Homo sapiens: one gene and its partners. The protein of the gene in region 4 purifies or fractionates together with the protein of the main gene of each other region. This does not show direct contact. Each region holds a gene or a part of one and is shown on either strand. Other genes may lie near its edges. The genes, in order: STX7, VAMP8, STX12 and STX8.

The links.
Region 1: the proteins of STX8 (region 4) and STX7 purify together in Homo sapiens (affinity purification with mass spectrometry; 7 studies listed by BioGRID and IntAct, with this or other methods). This does not show direct contact.
Region 2: the proteins of STX8 (region 4) and VAMP8 purify together in Homo sapiens (co-immunoprecipitation; 5 studies listed by BioGRID and IntAct, with this or other methods). This does not show direct contact.
Region 3: the proteins of STX8 (region 4) and STX12 purify together in Homo sapiens (affinity purification with mass spectrometry; 5 studies listed by BioGRID and IntAct, with this or other methods). This does not show direct contact.

Annotation. Positions count from the first base shown.
Region 1 is NC_000006.12:132,503,092-132,510,116, forward strand, and holds part of STX7 (syntaxin-7), read right to left. Parts: intron 498-7,025; 5' UTR 440-497; coding exon 355-439; intron 1-354. UniProt on the Homo sapiens protein: May be involved in protein trafficking from the plasma membrane to the early endosome (EE) as well as in homotypic fusion of endocytic organelles. Mediates the endocytic trafficking from early endosomes to late endosomes and lysosomes.
Region 2 is NC_000002.12:85,572,891-85,580,606, reverse strand, and holds the start of VAMP8 (vesicle-associated membrane protein 8), read right to left. Parts: upstream 3,022-7,716; 5' UTR 2,961-3,021; coding exon 2,958-2,960; intron 1,599-2,957; coding exon 1,440-1,598; intron 866-1,439; coding exon of another isoform or gene 733-865; intron 1-732. UniProt on the Homo sapiens protein: SNAREs, soluble N-ethylmaleimide-sensitive factor-attachment protein receptors, are essential proteins for fusion of cellular membranes.
Region 3 is NC_000001.11:27,818,213-27,824,962, reverse strand, and holds the end of STX12 (syntaxin-12), read right to left. Parts: intron 5,314-6,750; coding exon 5,231-5,313; intron 2,733-5,230; coding exon 2,634-2,732; 3' UTR 520-2,633; downstream 1-519. UniProt on the Homo sapiens protein: SNARE promoting fusion of transport vesicles with target membranes. Together with SNARE STX6, promotes movement of vesicles from endosomes to the cell membrane, and may therefore function in the endocytic recycling pathway.
Region 4 is NC_000017.11:9,250,796-9,257,820, forward strand, and holds part of STX8 (syntaxin-8), read right to left. Parts: intron 1-7,025. UniProt on the Homo sapiens protein: Vesicle trafficking protein that functions in the early secretory pathway, possibly by mediating retrograde transport from cis-Golgi membranes to the ER.

The DNA of each region.
Region 1 (7,025 bases), on a different chromosome or scaffold from region 4:
TAGTGCTACCTGGTTCCAAACCTATGAGACTGAGTCATCAGGTCTCATCATCTCATCTAGAACCAGATAGCTTTAAAGCAGATATAAGAATCCATTATCCTTTTAAATCTTTATTTTATTTAATGAAATAATGTATTATGTGCCTGGCCCTGACTTCCTATAGAAAAATGCAGTAAGTGTTATCTCAAATATAATTCTCTTGCATTCATTCTAAAGAGTTCGAGCCCTTTAAAACCTGTTGTTAGAGGAATGCTCCTCCCTCTCTCAATCAGCAGAGTTGTCCTTTTATGAACCTCCACCAAGTTCAGTTAAGAGTGGATACAAATAGTGAAGTCCATTTAAAACTCAACTCACAACACTGTGTGATCTTCTGGATGTTAGAAGAGATCCTCTGGGCCAACTGGGCGGGGTCACCACCAACTCCTGGAGTGTAAGACATGGTTGATGTTCTTATTCGCTAATTTCATCAGATGCTGTGCAGTTTTCTAAGCAGTCACCTAAATAATATAAAAGTCACACAGATATATTTTTTAAGTTACTGGCTTACATTTTCCAAATTAACAATCTGTGAAGTTACAAGGACAAACTTGATTAATCTAATAGAGTTGAAATCTGGCAAAGTGACACATCAAATAGCAAAACTCTCATGTCTACTAAAAAAAAAAAAACTGGACTTCAAAGGACAGAGTCATGTTAAACACATCAAACAATTAAAATAAGGTTCAAATTGCATATTTCCTTTGAAAACGTCTTTGATCTCTTCAAGAAAAATTATTAAATCCCTTACCTGTATATAATTTTAGTTGTTTACATATTTTTTCCTTAACTAAACTCCAAACAATTATAAGGCAGGGCCCACATGCTTATTTATCTTTCTCCAATATTTAAAACAACTCTTAGCACAAACAGGCATTTAAATATTTATTAAATGGAACACAGACTTCAGGCTATCCCCAGAAATTTCACTGTATTAGGTTGTGCAAAAGTAATTGCAGTTTTTACCATTACTTTTAATTGTGGTTTTTGCCATTAAAAGTAATGGTAAAAATGGCAATTACTTTTGTACCAACCTTAATATCTAATTTAACACACACACAGGACCTGCTCAGGAATGTATGATTAATAGGGCTCTAATTTTAATGGAAAAGGTTAAATCTGAAATAGCAGAGCCAACTACTGCGAAGCAAATGTCATATAAAATGTTTATCAAACCTTCCTGACAGAGGAAGGAGAACGAATGACTCTCCCCTTTCAGCAGCCAGCATCTCAGAATAGAAGAGACACTGAGATACTGCCACAGGAGGCAGGTGAGATGACATTCTCTACCTCTTCAATCCACACCACTCCAATCAGGGTTTGGAAAGAAGGTTGAAAAGGAATGTCCCTGCATACAGAACTGCGCACAGCAAAGAATTTCAACTACCGCCACCCCATCTTTTCCATGAATATGCACTGGAATACTGCAAAATTGTTGGTGGTCAATTTGTAAGCTAGCTCTCTACTAAGAGCCTGGTACATGCCCAGCATTAAACTAAGCACCTGGGAGATGCAAACAAAACAAAACACACTGACACAGTATCTGCTCAAATCAAGTTTGTCATTTAGGAGGAAGGATAAAGTTAATAATGCAAACCAACAAAAAACCCCACAAATCCATAAAAGATCACGTGCTAGGCTAAAATGAGAAGGGCTACAAAAAGAAAAAATGACCATCATCCTTGTCTGGAAAGAATTTATGAAATAGAAACATAGGATTTGGATGCTTGGTTATGACCAGTATGCAGAACAACAAAGGCAAGGACGTGAAGGCTGGGGTGGAGAGACCCAGAGCACGTGGAAAGGCCACATGCAGTATGGTATTTACAAAAGGAAGGGAAGGTTCCTGGCCAACCCTGGATCAGATGATTCACAGCTGGGACAAGGGGAAAACAACATAAAGGGAAAGAGAGGAATGGCCTAACATTTCTCGCACATCTGCGACACAAAAAGTATTTCACAGACTAATTTTTTCACAACCTCCTTCAATTAAGTGGCATTATTCTTGTTTTAATGATGAGCAAACAGCGGGCTTATTATGATTAAGTAATGGTAACCCAACCCACCCACAGGTGGAGGTGAGATTCAGTCCCAGGGTTCTGATGCCAAGGCTATCCATGCTTGCTACCACATAGAACTAATGCCACAGAAGATTTCTGGTAGAGAAGAAGCCACAGTGAAGTATGTGTCTTTGCTCTAAGGGACAGTGTTGGCAGGAAGTACAACAGCTGAACTGTTGAGACCATTAGAACAGTACTGGTTCTATGCCTGGAACTCTGGTGCACTTTGAATGTGCCTGGCCACGCTGAAAGTCCTGGTGGCTTTTAGATATTCTCCAACTTCCCTCTCAGGTACAGCTGATCTATTCTGGGCTCTCTGGGTCTCACCAAATCCTAGAGATGGATCCAAAAGCAATTTCATTAAAGGGTAAATTCAAACCTAAAGTCAGACAGCTGGACCACTACAGTGGGGAGACAGGAATAAACTTCCTTCCAGGTAGCCTTGGACTTGGGCCCAGACAGAACAAGAGTAGACATGGGGATTCAATGACACCAACACCATCCGGAACATCCTTGAAACCATGCAATTTTAAATGCATCTCCAAGTCACTTAAAAAAAAAAAAAAAAAAAAAAAAACACAGGTTTTGAATAGCCAAAGCAATTTTAAGAAAAAGAACAAAGCTGGAGGCATCTCATTGCCTGACCTCAAATTATACTAAAAGGGTATAGTAACTAAAACAGCATGATATTCATATAAAAACAGACACATAGAACAATGGAATGGAATAGAGAAGTCAGAAGTAAAGTCACATATCTACAGTCAATTGATCTTTTTGACAAAGTTGACAAAAACATACACTGAGGAAAGGACGCCCTTTTCAATACATGGTGCTGGGAAAATTGGATCGCCCCATGCGGAAGAGTGAAACTGGACCCTTATCTGTCAACATATAAAAAAAAAAATCGACTCAAGATGGATTAAAGACTTAAAAGTAATACCTAAAACGATTAAAATACTAAAAGAAAATATAGGGAAAACTCTTCTGGACATTGGTTTAGGAAAAGAATTTATGACTAAGACCTCAAAAGCACAGGCAACAAGACAAAAAACAGACAAAATGAGATTTAATTAAACTAAAAAGCTTTTGCACAGCAAAAGAAATAATAAACAGAATGAACAGACAACCTGCAGAATGGGAGAAAAATATCTGCAAACTACACATCCAACGAGATTAATATCCAGAATTTACAAGAAACTCAAACAACTCAACAAAAAACCCCACAAATAACCCCATTAAAAAGGGGGCAAAGCACATGAATAGACATTTTTCAAAAGAAGACATACAAATGGCCAAGAAGCACATGAAAAATGTTTAACATCAGTAAGCACCAGATAAATGCAAATTAATACCACAATGAGACATCATCTCACAACAGTCAGAATGGCTATTAAAAATTCATCCACAAACACATCTTGAACGGAAAAAAAAGAAAAAAAGTCAAACAAGTACAGATGTTGGCAAGAATGCAGAGAAACAGGAACACACACACTGTTGGTGAGACTGTAAAGTAGTACAACCTCTACAGAAAACAGCATGGCAAGTCATCAAAGAACTAAAAATAGAATTAATATTTGATCCAGTAACCTCGTTACTGGGTATCTACCCAAAAGAAAAAAAAAACCATTATACCAAAAAGATAATCTGCACTCATATGTCTATTGTAGCAATATTCACAAGAACAAAGATTTGGAATTAACCTAAGTGCCCATCAAGTGTCTATTAACATTCCTGAATGGATAAAGAAAATGTAGTGTATATAAATGCAATGGAATACTATTCAACCTTAAAAAAGACTGAAGTTATGTCTTTCACAGCAACACAGATGAACTGGAGGCCATTATCTTAAGTGAAATGACTCAGAAAAAAGTCAAATGCTGCATGTTCTCACTTGTAAGTGGAACCTAAATAATGTGTACACATGGACAGAGAGTGGAATAAGAAGACATTGGAGACTCAAAAGGATGGGAGGGTGAGGGATGAGAAATTACTTAATGCGTACAATGTACATTATTCAGGTGATGATTACACTAAAAGCCCAGACTTCACGCTATGCAATATAACCATGTAACAAAACTGCATGTGCACCCCTTAAATTTATATAAATAAAATGGCTTTATTGAGATATAATTTATTGAGATATGGCAATACAATACACCTACTTGAAGTACACAAGCCAATGGTTTTTAATATATTTACAACATTGTACAATCATCACTTTTAGAACATTTCTATTACGCTAAAAGGAAAGTTTGTAATCATTAGCAATCGCTCTCCATTTCTCCCCAACCTCACTGGCCAAAGGTGACTACTAATCTACTTTGTATCTTTATAGCTTTGCTATTCTGGACATTTCATAGGAATGGAATCATACAATGTGTTCTTCGAGACTAGCTTCTTTCTCTTAGTATGCTTCCAAAGTCCATCTGTGCTGTATCATATATCAGTCCTTCATTCCTTCATTATTGCCAAATAATATTCCTTCATTATTGCCAAATAATATTCCAAGGTATGGAGAAAGACAATTTTCTCTTGGTTCAATGACATCTTCCTTTCTCCTTTCCCTCTATCAAGTAGATCTCTGGAAAAACTGGCTTACAAGCCAAAACAAACACATTGAATGAAAAAATGTTCAGTTTGTTATTCATGTAATCTCTGGGGATGCTCCTCCATATACATGGTTCCATTTTAATCTATACCTGAATGAGTCGCACATCCATGTCTCCAGCTCGTACCCTTGGCTTTCTCTCGTGTCTACATGTCTGTGAAGCTACAAGAACTCAGCCATTGCCTGTGCGGCACACCATGGAAGTAGCAACTGGAAATTTCTACTTTGGGCAAGACACTTAGCATTTGGGCCCACTGCCAGAATCAAAATGAGATAATGCACATCCAGAGAACAAATGCTTTTCCACCCTACACAGAGGAAAGTTATGATCTGTTCTTGCAGCTGCAGGACCAGCATCAGCACAAGACCAAGAGAAACTCATCACCTGTCTCAAAACCATGCAAGCACACCTGAGGCCTACTCTCTCTCCCATAAAGAGTTCCATCAAGTCAAGGACAGTATTCTACAGCATTTTCCTTACCCTTAAAACTCACACCAGTGTAGCCCAAGTCTTCTCACTGTTTTCTTTCAAGGCCACCTTTTTTCCTCTCTGGAAAATCAATCACTTAGTCACAAACACAATCAATTTTCTTCATCCCTTTCCTCAAGCTACTAAATGTGAGAAAGTTCCTGCTGGTGAGACAATTGGCAAGTGGCTTCATTCACCCAAAGAGGTGCTACTTAGATTGACTGGAATTATGAGTTTTGTTTTACTTTTTCTTTGTTTGGCGTTGTTGTTGTTTGAGACAGGAGCACCCAGGCTGGAGTGCAGTGGTGTGATTACGACTCACTGCAGCCCTGACTTCCAGGCTCAGGCAATCCTCCCATCTCAGCATCCCGAGTAGCTGGGTCCACAGGCACCTGCCACCACATCCCACTAATTTTTTGATTTTTTTATAGAGATGGGGGTCTCACTTTGTTGCCCAGACTGGTCTTGAACTCCTGGGCTCATGCGATCCTCCAGTCTCAGCCTCCCAAAGTGCTGGGATTACAGGTTTGAGCCACTGTATCTAGCCAGGAATCATGTGTGAAGAATGAAAAGCAATTTGCAAAAGATAGAGAAGAAAGATGTGTAAAATAAAACAAAGTTAACAATGGCCAACACTCATCCAGGACTTACATTTCCTAAGCATTGTGCTTATGACTTTTAAATTTATTTTCTCAGTTAATTCTTATAAGCCTATCATGTGGGTATAATTGCTAATGTGATTTTTTTACATGAAGAAACTGAGGCATATCATTATGCCTCATTATCATTATAAGCAAAGGAGCAAATATTTGAAAATAACCACAGAGCCGACATTTTTTAAACACTAAGCCATACTGCTTCCTTGTATAACAAAATTGAGGGCAGGTGAACTCAGTTAGAAAAACCAAATTTGGGCTGGGCGCGGTGGCTCACGCCTGTAATCCCGGAACTTTGGAAGGCCAAGACAGGCAGATGACAAGGTCAAGAGATTGAGACCATCCTGGCCAACATGGTGAAATCTCATCTCTACTAAAAAAATTAACTGGGTGTGGTGGCATGCGCCTGTAGTGCCAGCTACTCAGGAGGCTGAGGCAGGACAATCGCTTGAACCCAGGAGGCGGAGGTTGCAGTGAGCCAAGATCACGCCACTGCACTCCAGCCCGGCGACAGAGCGAGACTCGTCTCAAAATAACATAACATAACATAACATAACATAACATAACATAACATAACATAACATAACATAACATAAAATAAAAAAAGACAAAAGAAAAACCAAATTTACCACTTTTCTGCATGCCCCATATGAAGTTTTGCTATTCCCACTCCTAAGATGAAGGAATATGTTTGGGATAACTACATGAGTTGATCAAGGTAACACAGAGGAATAGCTTACTCCTTTTCTCTATTATTCTGCTAATAAGTGGTATCTAAAAGGCAACAACAGTTGGCTCTTTTGATAATGAGACACACAAAGGAAAGGAACCAAATGGTTGTCTTTAAAAAATATATATACAAGCATAGACAGACAGGATAGGTAACTACAAATTGATTAAAAGCTTATGATCTCTGCATATAGGCTAAATGGATGCTGAGTTATTCAGATGTCTGCTTTCCACATCAGTCTCCATTACCTAGCCCAGAGCTGCTACGCACTAAAGTACTCTTGTTGAATACTTTTGAAAGCCCACTCAGAATTCCTATTTAATTGCTCAGAATAATAATTATATAATTCATTACCTAGACCTGTACTAACAGACTAGCCACTAACTAAATGGGCTGTTAAAATTATAGTGGTTACTAGAAGCAGAGAAGGATGGCGGGAAGGGGATAGCCAAAGGTTGGTTAACTA
Region 2 (7,716 bases), on a different chromosome or scaffold from region 4:
GGTTGAAATTTAGAATTCTCAGGATCCTAGGAGGTCTCCACCTAGATATGACTAGGGGTCCCCTTTCTCTTCTTACCCCTGCACACTGAGGGGTCCTCGACACCTGCTTACACCCAAGGGTACAACACTGGCAGCAAAATCTGCCCTTGGGAGGGCAGACCCTGGGACTGAGGGGTGCAGGCTCCAGGTGGGCACATCTCGCAGCTCCAGGACTCCTTGCCCCATCGGGACTGCTGAGGCTGGAGGAGGGACCAGGACAGGATAGAGGGTTGGAAGTAAGGGAACTCCTCCTCCTCCACCCACTCTTCCCCATGCCCAGCAATTCAAGTTATAGACACTAAATTTCCTGGGGCTTGTCCAGACATGGTGGCTCAAGTCTGTAATCCCAGCACTTTGAGAGGCCAAGGCAGGTGGATCACCTGAGGTCAGGAGGTCAAGACCACCCTGGCCAACAAGGCAAAACTTCGTCTCTACTAAAAATACAAAAAATTAGCCAGGTGTGGGGGTGCACACTGTAATCCCAGCTACTCAGGAGGCTGAGGCACGAGAATCGTTTGAACCCAGGAGGTGAAGTTTGCAGTGAGCCAAGATTGCACTCACTCTAACCTGGGCAACAGAGTGAGGCTCTGTCTAAAAAAAAAAAAAAAATTCCCGGGGCCATGCTCCCCAAATTAAGCTACAATTAAGCTACAGAAACAGGCAATGAGCCCCAGGGAGACAAGGGAGCAATACCCAAGAGCCAAGAGTTCACACAGGACTCAGAAAGCCAGAGCCAGCCTCCCCGCTGAACACAGAACTTGAGGCTCCAGACTTTGCTCAACTTTGGAGTTACTTCCTCCCTGAAACAGCTGGCCTCAGCCCCTGGCTGGAGAGAGAGAAGAATGAGGTCTAGCAAGATGTGTGGGAGATATTATTTTAGCCTTCATCTAGCAGGGGACCCTGGGATCAAAGCATTTCACTGCTCTTTCCCCCTTCTTTTTAAAGCCTACTCAGCAAGACGCCAGCAATTTCCCACCCCTTGTCTAACAGCTCCTAGAGAAGGCTAGAGGCCACAGCGGGGGTTTCCTCAGAGCCAATATTTCTGCCCTGGGAAGGTCAGACCCAGATGATTGTCATGGGCAGGCTTCAAAGGGAAAACAAGTTTCCCGGGAGAGAAGCCTGAGAATGCATGGGCTGACTGAGCTTTCGGTCTCAGAACATGCCTCTATGGGCGAGCTGCCACCTCAAGCCCCAGTCATGGGATCCATTCCCTGGGATCCATAACAATCTGTGGAGCAGAGCAGATTCAGAAGTGGAGACTCAGCTCACATCAGCTCCCAAACCAGGTGAAAGGCAACAGAAATGTCAAACTTCTGGCCCTCCTGTCCATTTTGCCCCACCAAAAAGAAATTCCCTCCCTCCCTGTTTTCCTCCAGCCCCCAGTGGGCTCCCTGTCTCACTGTGGCTTCCAGATCCTCTGTCTTGTTGCGGAGATGTTCCAAGTTTTCCCCCCGGGCCAGGATCCGCTCCACATTCTGGGTCATAATATTCTTAACTCCCTCCACCTCACTTTGCAGGTTCCGCACACGATCATTTCCTCCACCTTCACTGGCTTCCTCCTGTGCGGCAACACGGGGTTAATTAGACCAAGTGGTGGGGGAACTGGAGACTTGGGCTCAGAGATCTGGGGAGGGTAAGGCCTCAGGCAGACTTAAGCTTTTTGTAAAATGCTTGAAATGTTTACAAAGAGAATGTTTTCATGTATTACTTCTGTAATCAAAAATAAATGCATTTGTAAGCCCCAGAAGGTGAGATGTGATGCTGAACAGACTAGATCAAACTTCTTTTGGGGTTATTAGGGCCCCTGACAAGGAAAAGCAGCACATCACTAAATCCCTCCCCACTGCTTCCTTGCTCCCTAGAGAGGGCCGTAGAATACAGCAGGGCCAGCATCTCACAATGTTCCCTTCCAGAGCAGAGCCCGCCACTATTTACAATTCCCAGAGCCACCCCCCTTTCCTGATTTCTTGGGACCCTGGTTGAAAGTGTCTGTGCTGGCCAGCAGAACACCCTCACCCAGCCCCACCCATCTGTCCCTCTAAGCCAGCTGCCGGAGCACGGCCCTGGCCGCAATGCCATTGCTGTGACCCAGAACAACAGGCAACCAAGTATCCCAGAAGGCGCCTGGAGCCGTTGAGCCACACACTTCTGCTTTCCCCACCACTGGGCGACACGTGCAGGCACCAAGCAACCGCCTGCTTATGCAGATATTAAATAAAAATACCCGCCTGGGTGTTGGGGGAAATGGAGGACTAGTCCTCCCTGGCTGATGTCTCATCTCGGAGGCTTCATGACAAGGTTTTTGAACAAGGAGAGAAAAATAGTATTTAGCTCCTCCCCGCTTGACCTCCAAAAATAGGCCAGTGGCATGGGTCAGAACTACATTATCACAGAGAACCAACTTCTGGTTCTCTTATAAACCTTTAGTTCTCTTCTCCATGTTAATGGAGAAAGGACACCCAAAGGACTCAGTGGACACACAAATCCTTTGTGTTTCTGTGTGGGGATAAAGTGAAAGGCCGGAGAGGAGAGCTTCTGCCGCTGGGCTGGAATCTGAACTGGGAACTGCCCAGGCGCTGCCTGGTGTGGTGTCACAACACCCGCCTCGGGCTCCCTGGAGGAGGAAGGCACAACAACTCTTTGCCTGGAATTCGGAGCCCCCATCGGCGCTGGCACGGAAGCCCAGCTCCCCACCAGCACAGAGGTCAGGGGAGGGAGGGAGAAGGAGTAGAAACACCTGCCAGGACAGCTCAGAGCTATTTGCAGCCAAGTTGTCAAAGAAGAGAGGCCATAGCAGCACTGGCCCAGCCCTCTAACTTTGCCACCAACTCTCCTCCCCCGACACAGCCAACCCCCAGTCCCAAGCCCCCTCTGGCTCCTCTTTAAACCAGCCCTTTCCTAGTTCCCAGTTGGCTCACCATGTCTCAGAGCAGCCCAGGCCGGTCAGTAAGTGAATTCGCCTAGTCGGCTTCCTCCCAGGGTGGCCCTCAGTTCACTTCCTGCTTGCTCCAACTTTCAGCCTGCCCCCGCCCACCTCGCATCTCGAGTCGCTCCAGCCACACCTAACTCAGGTTTCCCCAGGTAGGCGGGCATTCTTCACTGTCCTCCCAGTGGCTTCCCAAACAAGAGCTTAAACTTAAAGTAATAGGGTTCTCAGAAGCCAAAGGTCTTCTAACTTGTCAGGAATTAGAAAAGAAAGATCAAGCAGCCCTCCGAGGTTTCCAGAGGCTGGACCTCCTGATCTAGAAAGGGCAGCCTTTTTTTTTTTTTTTTTTTTTTTAAATAGAGACGAGTTCTCACCATGTTGCCCAGGCTGGTCTCAAACTCCTGGGCTCAGGCGATCCTCCCACCTCAACCTCCCAAAGTCCTAGGAGCCATGATGCCCCACCAGCCATCTCCTTGTAATGTCTTGAATATCTGACTCCAGTTTCTAGAGACTGAGATCAACCATGCCAGGCCTAGCTCACAGGGAAACAAAATGCAGTTATGAAAATGTATTGCTGGATAACACTTGTTCCCAGGTCCCTGGGTGGCAGAAAGCACTAAAATCCCTGAAGTCTGGAATACTGTGATCCTGGGCTCTGATTCAGAAAGTTCTGGGTTACTAGTTACAGGCCCCTCAGGGAAACTTTTCACCTCTGTGGAGTTTGCAGGTGCTGATGCTTAGCTCAGATGGTGCTGGTAAGAAGCAAAAAGAGGCCGGGCGTGGTGGCTCACGCCTGTAATCCCAGCACTTTGGGAGGCCGAGGCGGGCAGATCACAAGGTCAGGAGTTAAAGACCAGCCTGGCCAACATGGCGAAACCCTGTCTCTACTAAAAATACAAAATAATAAACAGGCGTGGTGGCAGTTGCCTATAATCCCAGCTACTCAGGAGGCTGAGGCAGGAGAATTGCTTGAACCCGGGAGACAGAGATTGCAGTGAGCTGAGATCATGCCATTGCACTCCAGCCTGGGTGACAAGAGCAAGACTCTGCCTCAAAAAAAAAAAAAAAAAAAGAAGCAAAAAGATAGCATGTGCAGTGCAATGCCACTAGCACAGTGTCTATAATGATGGCTCACCAAACCTCTCCTTCCCTTCCAGAGTTCAGCAATTCTGCATTTCCCTTTAGGGGCTACCGCAGAGGTAATTGATCCCAGTCAGTGATCAGAGGACTGCCCCAGTGAACCAGAGCAGGGGGCCCAAGGCAAAGGATTTTTCCACTAACCTGGCTCCAGGCCAGAGAAAATCTGATCTTCCTTGACAGTGTTTATCAAGACAGAAGAACAATAACAGGGACATTCAGAAGGGAACGAACATTCTTGACCCATTCCAGAAGAAATCAGTTCCAAGGAGGAAATGTCAGCTTCTCCAACAAACACTTTTTTTGTTTGTTTATTTTGTTTTGTTTTCTTGAGATAGTCTCCCTCTGTCACCCAGGCTAGAGTCCAGTGGCATGATCGTAGCACCCTGCAGCCTTGAACTCCTGGGCTACAGCGATCGTCCTGCCTCAGCCTCCCCAGTAACTGAAACTACAGGTGCGAACCGCCATGTCTGGCTAATTTATTTTAAAACTTTTTGTAGAGATGGGGGTCTTACCATGTTGCCCAGGCTGGTCTCAAACTCCTGTTCTCAAGTAATCCTCCCTCCTCAGCTTCCCAAAGTGTTGGGATCATAGGTGTGAGCCACCACATCCAGACACAAATAATTTTTTTTTTTTTTGAGATGTTTCTCTCTTGTTGCCCAGGTTGGAGTGCAATGGCGCTATCTCGGCTCACTGCAGCCTCTGCCTCCCAGGTTCAAGCGATTTTCCTGCTTCAGCCTCCCTAGTAGCTGGGACTACAGGTGCATGCCACCAGGCACGGCTAATTTTTTTGTATTTTTAGTAGAGACAGGGTCTTACCATGTTAGTCAGGGTGGTCTCGAACTCCTGACCTCTCAGGTGATCCGCCCGCCTTGGCCTCCCAAAGTGCTGGGATTACAGGCGTGAGCCACCGCGCCCGGCCACAAATGCCTTTTTAAAAGCTTTAAACAAACTTCGGACCCCTGTAGCTTTTTTTTTTTTTTTTTAGAGGCAGGGTCCCACTCTGTCATCCAGGCTAGAGTACAGTGCAGTGTGTTCAAGCTCACTGCAGCCTTGAACTCCTGGGCTCAAGCAATCTTCTCACCTCATCCTCCCCAGTTAGCTGGGACTACAGGCAAGGGCCACCATGTCCAGTTAATTTTTTTTTTTTTTTGGAGACAGTGTCTTGCTGTGTTGTCCAAACTGGTCTCAAACTCCAAACCTCAAGTGATTCTCCCACCTCAGCCTCCCAAAGTGCTGGGATTATAGGCATAACCCACCATGCTCAGCAAATATTATATATAAGCCTGGGCAACAACATATCAAGACACTGTCTCTATAAAAAAATAAAACTGTTGGACACAGTGGCTCATGCCTGTAATCCCAGCCCTTTGGGAGGCCGAGGCAGTGGATCACCTGAGGTCAGAAGTTTGACACCAGCCTGATCAACATGTCGAAACCCCATCTCTACTAAAAATACAAAAACTAGCTGGGCATGGTGGTGGGCACCTGTATTCCCAACTACTCGGAAGGCTGAGGCAGGAGAGTCGCTTGAACCTTGGAGGCGGAGGTTGCAGTAAGCCGAGATCACACCGTTGCAATTCAGCCTGGGCGACAGAGTGAGACTCTGTCTCAAGTAATAATAATAATAATAATAATAATAAAATAAAAATAAAGTAAAATTAAAAAAATAAAATTGGCTGGGCACCGTGGCTCACGCCTGTAATCCCAGCACTTTGAGAGGCCGAGATGGGCAGATCACCTGAGGTCGGGAGTTCGAGACCAGCTCTTGACCAACATGGAGAAAACCCATCTTTACTAAAAATACAAAATTAGCCAGGCATGGTGGCGCATGCCTGTAATCCTAGCTACTCGGGAGGCTGAGGCAGGAGAATTGCTTGAACCCGGGAGGTGGAGGCTGCAGTGAGCCGATATCACACCATTGCACTCCAGCCTGGGCAACAAGAGTGAGACTCTATCTCAAAAAAAAAAACCAATAATAAATAAATAATAAAATAAAATTAGCCAGGCATAGTGGTGCATGTCCATAGTCCTAGCTGCTTGGAGAGCTAGCACAGAAGGATCACTTGAGCCCAGGGGTGTGAGACATCAGTGAGCTATGATAGTGCCACTGCACTCCAGCCTGGGAGACAGAGATAGACCCTGTCACTAATAATGATAATAATAATAATTTTATATATTGATTATGTGGCGAAATAATGTTTGGATATATTGAGTTAAATAAAAGATTAATAAAATAAATAAAATTAATTTCAGCCGGGGATGGTGGCTCACACCTATAATCCCAGCACTTTGAGAGGCTGAGGCAGGCCGATCATGAGGTCAGGAGATTGAGACCAGCCTGGCCAACATGGTGAAACTCCGTCTCTACTAAAAATACAAAAATTAGCTGGACGTGGTGGCGCTTGCCTGTAATCCCAGCTACTCGGGAGGCTGAGGCAAGAGAATCACTTGAACCTGGGAAGCAGAGGTTGCAGTGAGCCGTGATGGCGCCACTGCACTCCAGCCTGAGTAACAGAGTGAGACTGTCTCCAAAAAAAAAAAATAATAATAATAATAATTTCACCTGTTTCTTTATTTTTTAAAATTCATTTTTATTTATTTATTTATTTTTTTTGAGACAGGGTCTCACTGTCACCCAGGCTGGAGTACAGTGTCACAATCATAGTTCATTGTAACCTCAAATTCCTGGTTTCAAGTGATCCTCCTGCCTCAGCCTCCTAAAGTGTTAGCATTACAGGCATGAGCTACTGCATCCAGCCCTGTTTCTCTTACTTTTAAAATTTGGCCAGTAGAAAAATGTAAATTATGTGATTAGTGAAAAATGTTAAAATACATATTGTAATGTGGCTTATCACTGGGCATGGTGGCTGATCCATACCTTAATATTTACATGACCTGGGACAAACTTGCATAACAACTCTAAGCCTCAGTTACCTCATCATCTGTGCTTAGCACTCAAAAAATTCAGTAGACCAGGTGCAGTGGCTCACACCTGTAATCCCAGCACTTTGGGAGGCTGAGGTGAGAGGATTGCTTGAGCCTGGGATTTCGAGACTAGCCTGAGCAACATAGTGAGACCCTGTCTTTTTCTTTTTTCTTTTTCTGTTTTTTGAGAAGGAGTTTTGCTCTTGTTGCCCAGGCTGGAGTGTAGTGGCGCAATCTCGGCTCACTGCAACCTCTGCCTCCTGGGTTCAAGTGATTCTCCTGCCTCAGCCTCCCAAGTAGCTGGGAATACAGGCACATGCGCCACCATGCTCAGCTAATTTTTGTATTTTTAGTAGAGACGAGGTTTCACTATGTTGGGCAGGCTGGTCTCGAACTCCTGACCTCAAGTGATCTGCCCACCTCGGCCTCCCAAATCACTGGGATTACAGGTGTAAGCCACCGCCCCAGCCTCAAACATAATATATATATATATATTCAGTGAAGTGACTTTGTAAGGAAAAACTGCTGAACTGCTTGGTTATAGGAGTTGTAGCCCAAGAAGCAATGGGCCAAATCTTGGTTTATTCTTGGTTGTGCCTCTCATATACACCTCCTCCTTTCCATGCCAGCCCCTTCCTCCTAGTTAATGCCAGCCCCTTCCTCCTAGTTAATGCCAGCATGATCTC
Region 3 (6,750 bases), on a different chromosome or scaffold from region 4:
GCCTGTAATTGCAGCACTTTGGGAAGCCGAGGTGGGCGGATCACTTGAGGTCAGGAGTTCCAGACCAGCCTGGCTAACATGGTACAACCCCATCTCTACTAAAAATATATTTTAAAAAATGAGTCAGGCATTGTGGTGAGCACCTGTAATCCCAGATACTTGGGAGGCTGAAGCATGAGAATTGCTTGAACCCAGGAGGTGGAGGTTGCAGTGAGCTGAGATTGTGCCACGGCACTCCAGCCTGGGCGACAGCGTGAAACCCTGTCTCAAAAAAAAAAAAAAAAAAAAAAGTATATATATACATACACACAGAGAGAGAGACAGAGAGAGAGAATTCATGAATTTGCAAGTCATCCTGGTGCAGGGGCCATGCTAATCTTCTCTCTATTGTTCCCATTTTATATACGTGCTGCCAAAGTGGGCACTGTATTTTTTTAGTTTCTAATGTGAAGCCATGTTAAAAACTGCTGTCCTAGATTGTGATGCTCCCAATGATAATCAAGGCACAGATAAGGAGAATTCTGTGAATAGGTTTATTAAGACCACCTAGGAGAACCTCTTTGGCAACTACCACAAATTCTAGGCCATTTAAAATCCAGGCCAAGTTCATATTTGCTCTCCATGATCACCATTACAACAACCACAGGTCACACAGTATTACAGAACAAAAGCATGGTCACTTTATTTTACCCAAATGCAAATCGTTTTTCACAACCAAGACTTTTTTCTTTCCTACAATGTTACAAATGATGTATCCAAGTCCGACTGTAATTTGGAGTTAAACAGGGATCATAGAACCAAGGAATTATCTCTGAAGCTGCTCTTTGGGCCACTGTGCCACCCCAACAGCTCTATCCTGTTGTTCTTTTTTTTAATTAAAAAATCATTAAAAAAAAAATGGAGATGGGGTCTTGCTATACTGCCCAGGCTGATCTTGAACTCTTGGGCTCAGACGTACCGATATACTGATCCTCCCGCCTCAGCCTTCCAAAGTGTTGGGATTACAAGTGTGAGCCATTGCACTCAGCCATCTCTACACACTGTTTTTCAAGGAAAGGCAGCTACACCTATTCCGTCTCCAAACCAACCCTCACCTGGTGTCCAGTTTTCTTGGAAGTCTCAATTTTTCTCATGACAGCACATTACCTAATACCTACCACATTAGGATGTTAACTCATAAAAACATACTACAAAAGCTTTAAAAAACATTTATTTGTATTAAGTAAGTGCAACAGTGCAAAGAAACTTATGCATTTGGGCCCTTGCTTCCCTACTGTTCACATTAGTTTAGTTTAGAAGATTAAGTATAATAACAGAAGGAGAACAGAAGAAATGAATATAAATATACTCAGGGTAGCCAAATCCTCTAATTCACTAAAGGATGAACCAAAGTTGTTGGCCAGATTCACATTTATGTGGGAGCCTAAACAAATTATGTTCCCTTTAACTGTTCTAGGCCTGTGGAAAAGGGAAGTGGACAACATTTATATTACAAGACAGTAATTTTATTGAAACATCTTTTTTTGTCTAAAACTATGCATGGAGATATTAATCTCTTGTTTATAAATTAGGTTAAGTCTAACATCACTATTTGAAACCAGTGTTATTTACAAAAATGAACCTCTTCTTTGCTTTATTGTTGGTTTACAGGAATAATTTTAAACCAACCTCAATCTATCTTTAAAAATCTTCCTGCCTTCAAATGCCCAGCAACCCTTATAAGGTAGGGGGCAGCCCTTTGACAGCAACATTCATCATTCACCAGGAATGTAGAACCACAAGTGAACAACAACAACAACAACAACAAGATTAAATCATTCCCAACAATTCCTATTTGCTTTTCCAAAGCATGCTATGTCTAATTCTGCCTTTCTATGCAGACAGGTGGGAGAGGGAGCCCATAGAGTATATTAATGTTAATTAAATTAACTTCCTTTAAAAGCTAACAGGATGGCTTAGTGTGGATGAGGATGAACTGCTGTGGATGACACTAGCAGATAATGAAGTAAACTTTAAACCCAGATTAGTAACATGTACTCCAGTAACTGACCAGCTCAGATAGAGACTTCTCATTTACTCTGGATCACATGTACAATATTTTACCTTCCAATTAAATATAGTGCCAAAATCTTTCAAAATAGATAGAGAATAGGCTTCTTAGAAATTCAAATAAAAATGTTAAATAATAAAAACTGGTGGCCTATTATAGAGTTTCTGACAGACTCCAATATACTGGGTACCAGAAAGTAACTCTATCTCAGATGCTAGTAAAAAGGTAAATTTTGTATATACATAAAAGACAATATTACGAGACTGTAGTGTCATTTGTCAAAACAAGAATATCTAGAATGGAATTTTCAGTAAACACTTGGGATGAAGGGCAATCAGAATACAAGAGGAAGCAAAATCCACATAAGTTAATTCCTAATTTGAGAAATCAATAGAATCAATAAATTGATAATTACTGTCTCCATAGGTCACGAATTCCAAAGACTAGTTAGTAGTTAGTTTCTAACTAAATGATTACAGGACGTTCTGATATATGCTGTCTTCTTGTGATCAGTTTGTTCTGGCAAGACTTCAACAAGCACTTGCCCTTGAAAACAGCTCAGCGGGAGAACGATCGGAGGCAATCACTTCGTTTTATAAACTAGCCAGATAATAAGTCCCAAGATTAGAATAATCACTGACAGGACAAGCACCAGGATACACATCTTCTTGCGAGATTTTTTCTGAGGAAAGAAATATGTAAACAAGATACTCATGAAACAAGTAAAATTTGTATGTGTAAGACTCTAAGAATGCTTCATAAATCTGCCTCCTTGTAATTAAAGATTAACTCTATCCATGCAAAATTATGCACAGACTTTCCCAGAAATCTTAAGTCAGCAGCACTAGGTAGTAGTGCAAGTGTTTTTTGTTTGTTTGGTGTTTTTTTTTTTCTTGAGACAGAGTCTCACTCCGTCACCCAGGCTGGAGTGCCGTGGTGCGATCTTGGCTAACTGAAACCTCCACCTTCCAGGTTCAAGTGATTCTAATGTCTCAGCCTCCTGAGCAGCTGGAATTACAGGCGTGTGCCACTATGCCCAGCTAGTTTTTGTATTTTTAGTAGAGACGGGGTTTCACCAGTGTTGGCCAGGCTGATCTCGAACTCCTGACCTCAAGTGATCTACCTGCCTCGGCTTCCCAAAGGGCTGGGATTACAGGCGTGGGCCACCGCACCCAGCCGAGTAGTATAGGTTTCAAAGTTTTAATTCCAAGTCCCCACATACAATTTTGCAAAGGAACTATACCTGTGCTGCCAGGCATTATTTGCAATAAAATAAGTTATTTGTGCATGTGTATTTTAATAACATTTTATAATACGTATAAAACTGTTATGTTCATTGTAAAAAAAAAAATACAGCAAGCGGAGGGAGAAAAAAAAATCACCCATAGATAATACCGTCAACATTTTTGTATTTCTTTCTGATTTGTTATCTATGTATATTATTTGACATAACTGGATCACATTGTATGATGTTTGATGTTTTTCCTCACTTAATGTTTAGTATAAACATTTTTCTGTTTAAACTCTTCAGAAACATCTCTTAATTCCCATATGCAACAATGAGTGGATGTATATAATTTACTTAATTATTCCTTTACTGTTGGACACTAAATTAATCACCTAGTTTTTAAAGGAAACACTATTATTAAATACGAATTTCTTTACGAGCACTCCCAGGTAAAATACAGCTATCCCAGGAACACGGAAAACAACTGAAATGCTATTTCTTCTTTTTTTTTTTTTTAATTATACGTTAAGTTTTAGGGTACATGTGCACAATGTGCAGGTTAGTTACATATGTATACATGTGCCATGCTGGTGTGCTGCACCCACTAACTCGTCATCTAGCATTAGGTATATCTCCCAATGCTATCCCTCCCCCCACCCCACAACAGTCCCCAGAGTGTGATGTTCCCCTTCCTGTGTCCATGTGTTCTCATTGTTCAATTCCCACCTATGAGTGAGAATATGCAGTGTTTGGTTTTTTGTTCTTGCAATAGTTTACTGAGAATGATGATTTCCAATTTCATCCATGTCCCTACAAAGGACACGAACTCATCGTTTTTTATGGCTGCATAGTATTCCATGGTGTATATGTGCCACATTTTCTTAATCCAGTCTATCACTGTTGGACATTTGGGTTGGTTCCAAGTCTTTGCTATTGTGAATAATGCCGCAATAAACATACGTGTGCATGTGTCTTTATAGCAGCATGATTTATAGTCCTTTGGGTATATACCCAGTAATGGGATGGCTGGGTCAAATGGTATTTCTAGTTCTAGATCCCTGAGGAATCGCCACACTGATTACCATTCAGGACATAGGATGGGCAAGGACTTCATGTCTAAAACACCAAAAGCAATGGCAACAAAAGCCAAAACTGACAAATGGGATCTAATTAAACTAAAGAGCTTCTGCACAGCAAAAGAAACTACCATCAGAGTGAACAGGCAACCTATAAAATGGGAGAAGATTTTCGCAACCTGCTCATCTGACAAAGGGCTAACATCCAGAATCTACAATGAACTCAAACAAATTTACAAGAAAAAAACAAACAACCCCATCAAAAAGTGGGCGAAGGACATGAAATGCTATTTATTTCTAAAAAGCCATGCAACACCAAATTGAAGGGAAGTGAGAAAGACTTCATTCACATTATTTGTACACTGAGATAAAGACTTGGATAAGTAAAAAAACCAGAGTTTCAACTAACATGTAGAAGGATTTCACTTTACAGGAACAGTTCCAGAATGATTATCCTTATTTATTCATATATAAATAGCAGTCGAAGTTGATTCTATGTCCATCCTCTATGGCAACACTCAACATAAAGAATCTATGAAGTCTTCTACTTTAACTGTACTTCTTACTATCCTAATTGAAATACATTCAGCTGTTCGGGATATAAAACAGCCTCATAGCAGATTTAGGTATCATATTAGTGTATAGGGTTAGCTTTGCAGTTACTAGCCTTCTGATAAGTTTATTCAAGGTGTGATTATTTTTTGTAGATCTATCTGCAAAGGAAAATAATAAAAATGGAACTGGGACTGCAATTATGACTACTTTCCTTTAGCTTAAACCTAAGCAAAGGCTGTAGCTGTTCTCAATATGTCAATGTACTCTGATGGCCTAAAAAGTCTGCAACACAGAGTGACTTTCTTTGGTACCCGCTTTTACCTGATAGTAAGCAGCTCGCTGTAACTGTTCAGTGGCTCTTTCGACGTGCACCTCTGAGCTTTCCACATTGGCTTCTATGCTATCTGCAAAAGGAAGGACAGAGGATGTTTTAACACACTCAGATGTTTTAAGACTGCAAATTGAACAGATTTCTGATGTTACATGTCCTGGTTTCACTACCACTATCCAAACTATCCAGCCATGAAATCGAGTTACTACCTTGGTAAGAGACTAGCCTTTTCTTTGGAGAAAAAACAATGAATTTTTGGGGGCTATGAAGTATTTAACTTACCCATAAATGATTCATAAAAAATTATGTAGATACACATAGAGAAAGAGAGAAAGAATACATAATAAAGCAAATGGGGTAGAATGTTAACAAGAGGTAAATCTGGGTAAAGGGTATAAAGAAGGTCCTTATAATATTTTTATTTTTGCTACCTTTTTTTTTTTTTTTTTTTTAAGAGACGGGATCTCACTCTGTCACCTAGACTGGAGTGCAGTGGTACAATAATAGTTCACCGTAGCCTCCAACTCCTGGGTTCAAGTGATCTTCCCACCTCAGCCTCCTGAGTAGCTAGGACTACAGGTGCATGTTACTATGCCTGGCTAATTTTTTGGTAAAGACAGGGTCTTACTATGTTGCCTAGGCTAGTCTTGAACTCCTGGCTTCAAGTGATCCTCCCACCTCAGCCTCCCAAAGTGCTGGGATTACAAGCGTGAGCAACCATGCCCAGCCTATTTTTGCAACTTTTAATAAACTCGAAATTATTTCCACATAGAAAGCTTTAAAAAAAAGAGTTACTGGCCAGGCGTGGTGGCTCACGCCTGTAATCCCACCACCTGGGAGGCCAAGGCGGGCAGATCACCTGAGGTCGAGAGTTCAAGACCAGCCTGACCAACATGGAGAAACCCCGTCTCTACTAAAACTACAAAATTAGCGGGCGTGGTGGCACATGCTTGTAATCCCAGCTACTCGGGAGGCTGAGGCAGCAGAATTGTTTGAACCCAGGAGGCGGAGGTTGTGGTGAGCCAAGATCGCACCATCGCACTCCAGCCTGGGCAACAACAGCAAAACTCCGTCTCAAAAAAAAAAAAAGGGTTACTAACCCCATAATTTTGCAAGTTTGTTGAGATAAAAGCTGGGAAGCTGAGAGCTATTTCTCTAAACAAAGATGTACAAAGAAGTCAATGGGACTGAGTATTCATGAGGCCTCATTTAACTTCTACATTTGATAACATAAAAAAATTGCTACGAAAAATAAATTTGGTAATTTTTAAAACGGCATTCCTAAACATACTTTAACTCTATAGCTGATATGACTAACTCCATTTTTTTTTTTTTTTTAATTGAGACGAAGTCTCATTCTGTCACCCAGGCTGGAATACAGTGGCGCAATCTCGGCTCACTGCAACCTCCACCTCCTGGGTTCAAGGGATTCTCCTGCCTCAGCCTCCCGAGTAGCTGGGACTACAGGTGCATGCCACCAGGCGTAGCTAATTTTTTGTATTTTTAGTAG
Region 4 (7,025 bases):
CGCCGCTGCTGCTACACAGCTCTGGCTTTGCAGGATGCTGAGTGCAGAAGGCAGGGGCCTGGGTGTGGCCAGGCCCCCCCAGGCAGCACTCAAGCCAGGAGGGGGTGAGGCCCCTAACTCTAGCATCTGTGTACACCTTGGACCACAAGGGAGGGCGCAAGCTGCTGACGACAGCCACCCTCACTACCCAATCAGATTATGCATTGATGACGCATTGATAAAGCAAAGGGCTTAGGAGAGCATTCTAGAACCCATTTCTCCATTCTCCACATGGCTTCACTTTGTGTTCTTGAGTCCAAGATCCTTAAGTCACCCATTTGTAAAAATATTCACCGATAGAGGTGCTTGTTTTGATATATACTTTTTCTGCTAGTATTTGCTAGTTTCATTTCCTGACGTTTTTGGCTGGAGAGCACAGGCCCTCCTAGCCAGCCCATGCTGGGTGCCACTCTGCCTTCCAGCCCCGCCCTGCCTCCTCTGGGTCGTGTGTCTGCACTGACCATTGCCTGTTCCTTCACCTGATGCTGATGAAGTGGGCCCCACAGAATGCAGCCCTCACTTAGTGCAATGAGCTCACTGTCTCCCATGTTCGCTTGCCCAGTATTTAACGAGTGTTTACCACGTGCCAGGTACCAGCGGCGACAAGGTATAGCATAACAGAGAAGGGGCGCCCTACTACAAAGTAAGCACTCAAGAAAGGTTTGCTCACTGAAGAGTCCTTGAGCTGCCAAGGCCCCACGAGAGAGGTGGGTAGCAGAGGAGGAGAGGTCCATGAAAATGCTTCAGAAAGTAACAGGGAGAGCCACGTGTGCAGGGTCACATGGTTGCACAGCCATCAGGACTGCTGAACGCCACGGTAGTCTGTGGCATATGTTCGTGAGCAAAGAAAATGCTAAATTTCAATTAGACATTTGTGAACATAAGAGTCCAATTTGCTTTCCGGTCCAAGTTCACGGGCTTCCCGAATCCCCTCCACAGATCCTCAGGGTTCAATGTGGATCAGGCCATACCAATCTTAAGCTCAACCCATGTGGGCACTGCACCATGGTTTTGAATATTGAAGAGACTTAAAAATGTATGGCAAGTGGCTGGGTGCAGTGGCTCACACCTGTAATCCCAGCACTTTGGGAGGCCAAGGCGGGCGGATCATCTGAGGTCAGGAGTTCGAGACCAGCCTGACCAACATGGTGAAACCCCATCTCTATTAAAAATATATTTAAAAAAATAGGCCGGGCACGGTGCCTCATGCCTGTAATCCCAGCACTTTGGGAGGCCGAGGCGGGCAGATCATCTGAGGTCAGGAGTTCGAGACCAGCCTGGCTAACATGGTGAAACCCCGTCTCTACTAAAAATATATTTAAAAAATTGGCCGGGCGCAGTGGCTCACGCCTGTAATCCCAGCACTTTGGGAGGCCGAGGCGGGCGGACCATGAGGTCAGGAGATCGAGACCATCCTGGCTAACATGGTGAAACCCCATCTCTACTAAAAGTACAAAAAATTAGCCTGGCGTGGTGGCAGGCGCCTGTAGTCCCACCTACTTGGGAGGCTGAGGCAGGAGAATGGCGTGAACCCGGGAGGCGGAGCTTGCAGTGAGCCGAGATTGCGCCACTGCACTCCAAACTGGGCAACAGAGCAAGACTCTGTCTCAAAAAAAAAAAAAATATTAGCCAGGTGTGGTGGTGGGTGCCTGTAATCCCAGCTACTTGGGAGGCTAAGGCAAGAGAATCGTTTGAACACGGGAGGCGGAGGTTGCAGTGAGCTGAGATCACACCACTGCAATACAGCCTGTGCAACAACAGTGAAACTCTGTCTCAAAAAAAAAAAAAAAAGAAAACGAAAATAAAAAAAAAAACTAGGGCAAGCTTCTTTGTCATCTACCTGTGACTGTGGTTGCATTTTTCTGATATGGGCTCTTTCTCTGATGATCCAATCTTTTGAGAAACGCTTCTCTTGGGGCCCCAAGGTTTCTCCCCCGTCTTCCTGTAGATGAAAACCTCATCCTAGTCTACCTCAAGGCTCTGCCAACTTTGGTTCATGGGCCAAATCTAGCTGTGCTCTGTTTTTGTGCAACCCATGAGCTAACAATGGTTTTTATATTTGTAGAGGGTTGTCAAAAAGGTAAAAGGAGGAGATGTGACACCGTCTGTGGTCTGCACAGCCTAAACCGTTTACGACCTGGCCTCTTCCAGAGGCTTGCTAGCTCCTGCTCTCCATCATCATGATGATGACCCACCTGCAGCATCAGTTCGCCCACTTAGGCGCTGGCCTTCAATGCGCTCTTCATTTCTTTCATCTAGGGATTTCCTTTCTTCCTTGTAAATTCAGCCCTGCATTAACATTTGTGGGTGGGTGGAGTTACACTATTTTACCTCACATTTCAAGATGCTTGCAGCAAGAAGGCAGGGGTAGGGGTGTGTGTGTGTGTGTGTGTGTGTGTGTGTGTGTGTGAATATCTTAGTCCATCTGCAGTGAGAAGGTAGGGATACGGGTGTGTGTGTGTATGCGTATGTGTGTGTATGTGAGAATATCTTAGTCCATCTTCTTGCCAGAAGCAGAAGAACAAATCTTTTCACTGATTTCTGCTCCAGAAACATCTTCAGGTTGACCAAAAGCTCCCCTGGGCAGGAGCTTCACTAGTTCTTGGTTATTCTGGTGCCTGTGTGGTGATCAGCTGAAGACTTGGTCCTGGCTGGGTGAAGGTTTATGTTGCGCAACATGAGGAGAAGATAACGAGAATGAGGAGGCAGGCACAGGCTGGGATGGGGCGAAGGGGCAATCCCTGGCACTCCAGGGCCTGGGCTCACCCTAAGATGACAGGGAGGGGCTGGCAGCTGAGGAGATGAGGGAGAGGATGAGAGGTGTTTTAGGAAGAGGTACTGCTCCTGAAGCTCCAGTGGGATCACAGTTGGGAGGACACTTGGGCCCAGAAGCTCCATGCATCAAGGCAGGCTCCACACTGAGGCTCTGATGGCCTGGAGCAGAGGCCAGTATGAATGACCGTGAATTGTCAAATCAGGGTGATTATGAGAAGAGCGGAGCAAGTGACAAGAACAAAGAAATCAAGAACAACAACTGATTGGGAAGAAGAAAACACACATCTGGTTTTGGTTCATACACCCGGAGCGTGAGGTCCAAGGGAAGAGGCCTCAAGGCATGCGCAGTCACTGCCATCCCTGATTTGGCTCCCTGCAGTGAGGGACTGCTTTCCCCGGTCCCTGCTCCACGATGGAACTACAGCAAGCTTTTCAGAATGTAAAGGAGATCAGGTCACCTCCTTGCTTAAATCCTCCAGTGGCTGAAACTGAGATCCAAACTTTACAGTGGCCAAGGGGGTCTTGCACAGTCTGACCCAGCAACCCTGCAGCCGCACTCTGCGCGCTGTGTTTGAGCCATCCTGGCTGTCTCCGGTGCCCCCAACAGGCTGATGCAGAAGGTAGGGGCCCTGCCTCCCAGCTTCGACACGCGCTATCCTTTCCATCCGGGAGCTCCCCACTCGTGGTCTAGTTAATCCCTCAAACTCAGTGGCATTTTCCCAAAGAACTCTTTGTCATCCTCCAGTTACCTGTGCCCTCTTTGCCCCCCTAAGTTTCCATGGTAACTCTTATTAAATCTTTTTTTTTTTTGAGATGGAGTCTCGCGCCCAGGCTAGAGTGCGGTGACGTGATCTTGGCTCACTGCAGCCTCCGCCTCCTGGGTTCAAGCAATTCTCCTGCTTTAGCCTCCCAAGTAGCGGGGATTACAGGTGCCCACCACTATGCCCGGCTAATTTTTGTATTTTTAGTAGAGACAGGGTTTCACCATGTTGGCCAGGCTGGTCTCGAACTCCTGACCTCAAGTGATTTGCCCTCCTGGGCCTCCCAAAGTGCTGGGATTACAGGCGTGAGCCACCGCGCCCGGCCTTGAATCATTATTTAGGTACTCAGTTACTGTCTGTCTCTCCTGGACACATGAACATCTACACCAGGGACTGTGGGTTCTCGTTCACCGCCATATCCCCCGTACCTAGAACAGAGCCTGGCACAGGAAAGAGGCACACACACACGCGCACGTGTGTGCATGTGTGTGTGTGTGTATAAAACAAATGAGTAAATGTATTGAATTTTTGGAAGGGATAAGAAGAGTCAAGAGAGGCATAGAAGGAGTGGTCAGCAGAGAGGGAGAAGCTGAGAAAATGTGGCAAGAAGGCCAATGAGTAAGAAAATTCAAAAAGTGGCCAATGCCAACCCACAATACTACAGAGACAAGATAGAAGAATGCTCTTCCACAGAAGAGCTGCAGAGACCTTTCATAGTACAGTTTTAGCGCATGGTGGGTGGGTCTAGTGGAACTATTATTAATACAGTGGTGGCTAAGCTGCTAATTTTTCTACCACAGATGCTGTGAATTAGACAAACTGTGCCCCAGGAAAGGCATGACAGGGCACACATTATCTATAAAAAATGAAAATGGGCCAGGCGCTGTGGCTCACGCCTGTAATCCCAGCACTTTGGGAGGCCAAGGCGGGCGGATCATCTGAGGTCAGGAGTTTGAGACCAGCCTGGCCAACACAGAGAAACCACGTCTCTACTAAAAATACAAAAATTAACCGGGCATGGTGGTGCACGCTTGTAGTCCCAGCTACTTGGGAGGCTGAGGCAGGAGAATCACTTGAACTCGGGAGGCGGAGGTTGTGGTGAACTGAGATTGTGCCACTGCACTCCAGCCTGGGCAACAGAGCAAGACTCCATCTCAAAATAAATAAATAAATAAATAAATAAATATATAAATAAATAAATAAATAAATAAATAAATGAAAATGAACTTGAGTGATGGACATCTTGGACAGTAAGCTGATAAGATGTGATAAACTGGGTTCTTGTCCCAAGATGAAAAGGAGGATTTTAGGAGCCATGACAAATAAGGCTTTTATATTTTAAACCCTTTCAGAGCAAACAGGGGGAGACTTTAAACAGGCTTAAGTAAACTGGTATATACTGAGGGTCAACTGAGGAGGTCGTTTTAAGATGGCAGGTGACAGCGATAAGCAAAAGCCAACTGCTGTCTTTTGGATTCTTTGGGTCAAAGAGAAGGTGTTTATCTACCTTAGCACGGCAATCCTTTTTCTTTAAGAAGTTTGGCTTTCTTCGAATGTGATCCCAGCTCTGGCACCTTTCTGAATGGAGTTTCTCTCCTCTGAAGGATGTTTCGGAATGAGTAAGCAGGGATCTTTTTGAAGCCAGGGAAAGCTGAGCCACACCGTTCATGAAACAGTCATGCGTGCCAGGTTTGGCACTAAGTGCTATGGGTGTATTACTTGGTTTAATTCTGCACAGTAAGTAACCCTCATCTCTGTTTTATATCTGAGGAAGCTGGGGTTCTGGAAGGTGAACTCTCCTACCTAAGGCCCTCTGGCGGGTAAGAGGAAGAACTAGAATTGGAATCCAGGTGGGTAGGACCCCTCTGCCCACACGCTCACCCTTGTCTACACCAGTGGAGCTTGAGTGGAGGCATCCTGATTCGAGACAGTGTGGGGGTCCCTCGGGGAGAGAGGCTCAGACTCACTGGGGTTGAAACACCGGGATCAAGAGTTTCTTCTCTTTTCATCCTCTTCTCTTTCTCCCTCCCTCCTTCCCTTCCTTAACGTTTTATGATGGAAAATTTTAAACATATACAAAAGCAGACCGAAGGGCACGCAGAACAGTGATGAGCCCATCCGTCAGCTTTCGCAAGGATCCATTCATGGCCTGTCTGGCTTTATGCAAACCCTCACCTGCTCCCTGTCTCCTGCATATTATTTTGAAACAAATTCCAGACATAGGTCATCTACAAATATTTCAGTAAGTATCACTAAAAGGCACCATTAAAAAGACACACACACTCCCCCACTACCCACATAACCACAGAGGGTCTGACGGTTCCTAAAGGCAGAGGCAGGGAAGAGCTGGCAACTCTTCTGATGTAGGAAGGTGGCTCCAGTTTCAGGGGCGCAGCCGACCCCCCTGCCGGAGGGACATGGGACCTCACATCGTACTCGGTCACGTGTGAAAAGCAGAACTTCCTTCTTCTGCCTCAGAATAGTTCTTAAACCTCAGGGGGGTCTACTCATCCATTCCCCCAGCTAAGGAAATGTTTGACATTTCAGAACAAGGAAAGACAGTTGAACTTCTGGGAGGCTGCCAACTTCTTAAACAATGAATGCTCTCTGCCCCCAACCCTAGCACAGAACACCTGCTGCGGCTCCTGACTTCGGGATCGTTTCTCTGCGCTTCACTCAGCTCCTGCCCTGGGCCCGCTGGCACCTGGCGAGGCAGATTTTCCCTTCCAATACTCAAGAGTCCCTTTCAGGGGCAGGCATGGGATGCCAGGGTTACAAGAGTGGAAAAAAATGTCCATTTCCTTTGGTCAGTTTACCAGATGAGTATTACTCAACCACTTACAATATTTACAAGTCCAGCTCATGGCAATTAAAAAAAGATGTAAGAAAACAAACTCCTTTTCAAACTGGGAGAGGATATTAAACACAGTCTCTCAGGAATGGTGTTTTCTGAAGACTCGTCATCTGGAGTCATGGTCCATACTTTTTTCCAGTGAAACACTGGAAACGAGCAAAATACGGAGCTTGTGCTGCCAACGCCCCTGCCACAAGTTGGGTGTAGGTAACAGCTCTCAGTGCTTACTGACATGGAGGAGGAGGGGAAGGAGGAGAAAGAATCTGGAGGCTGACTTTTCGAGAGAGTGTGGATCTCTGTGTTGGCCACTTCTGCCCTGTAGCTGCAGGGGAACGTGGCAAGTAGGCTGATGGGAAAGCAAGAGGCAGGGAGGGGTGAAGGGCGCTTTATCCAGGAGTCTTTTTATCTGGTTTTGTTGCAAGGAAAGCCGCCTTAGCTGCCTACTACTATTTTGGTTGTCTTGAACCAAAACACATATTCTGGCCAGGCGTGGTGACTTATGCCTGTAACCCCAGCACTTTGGGAGGCCAAGGCGAGTGGATCACCTGAGGTCAGGAGATTGAGACCAGCCTGGCCAGCATGGCCAAACCCCGTCT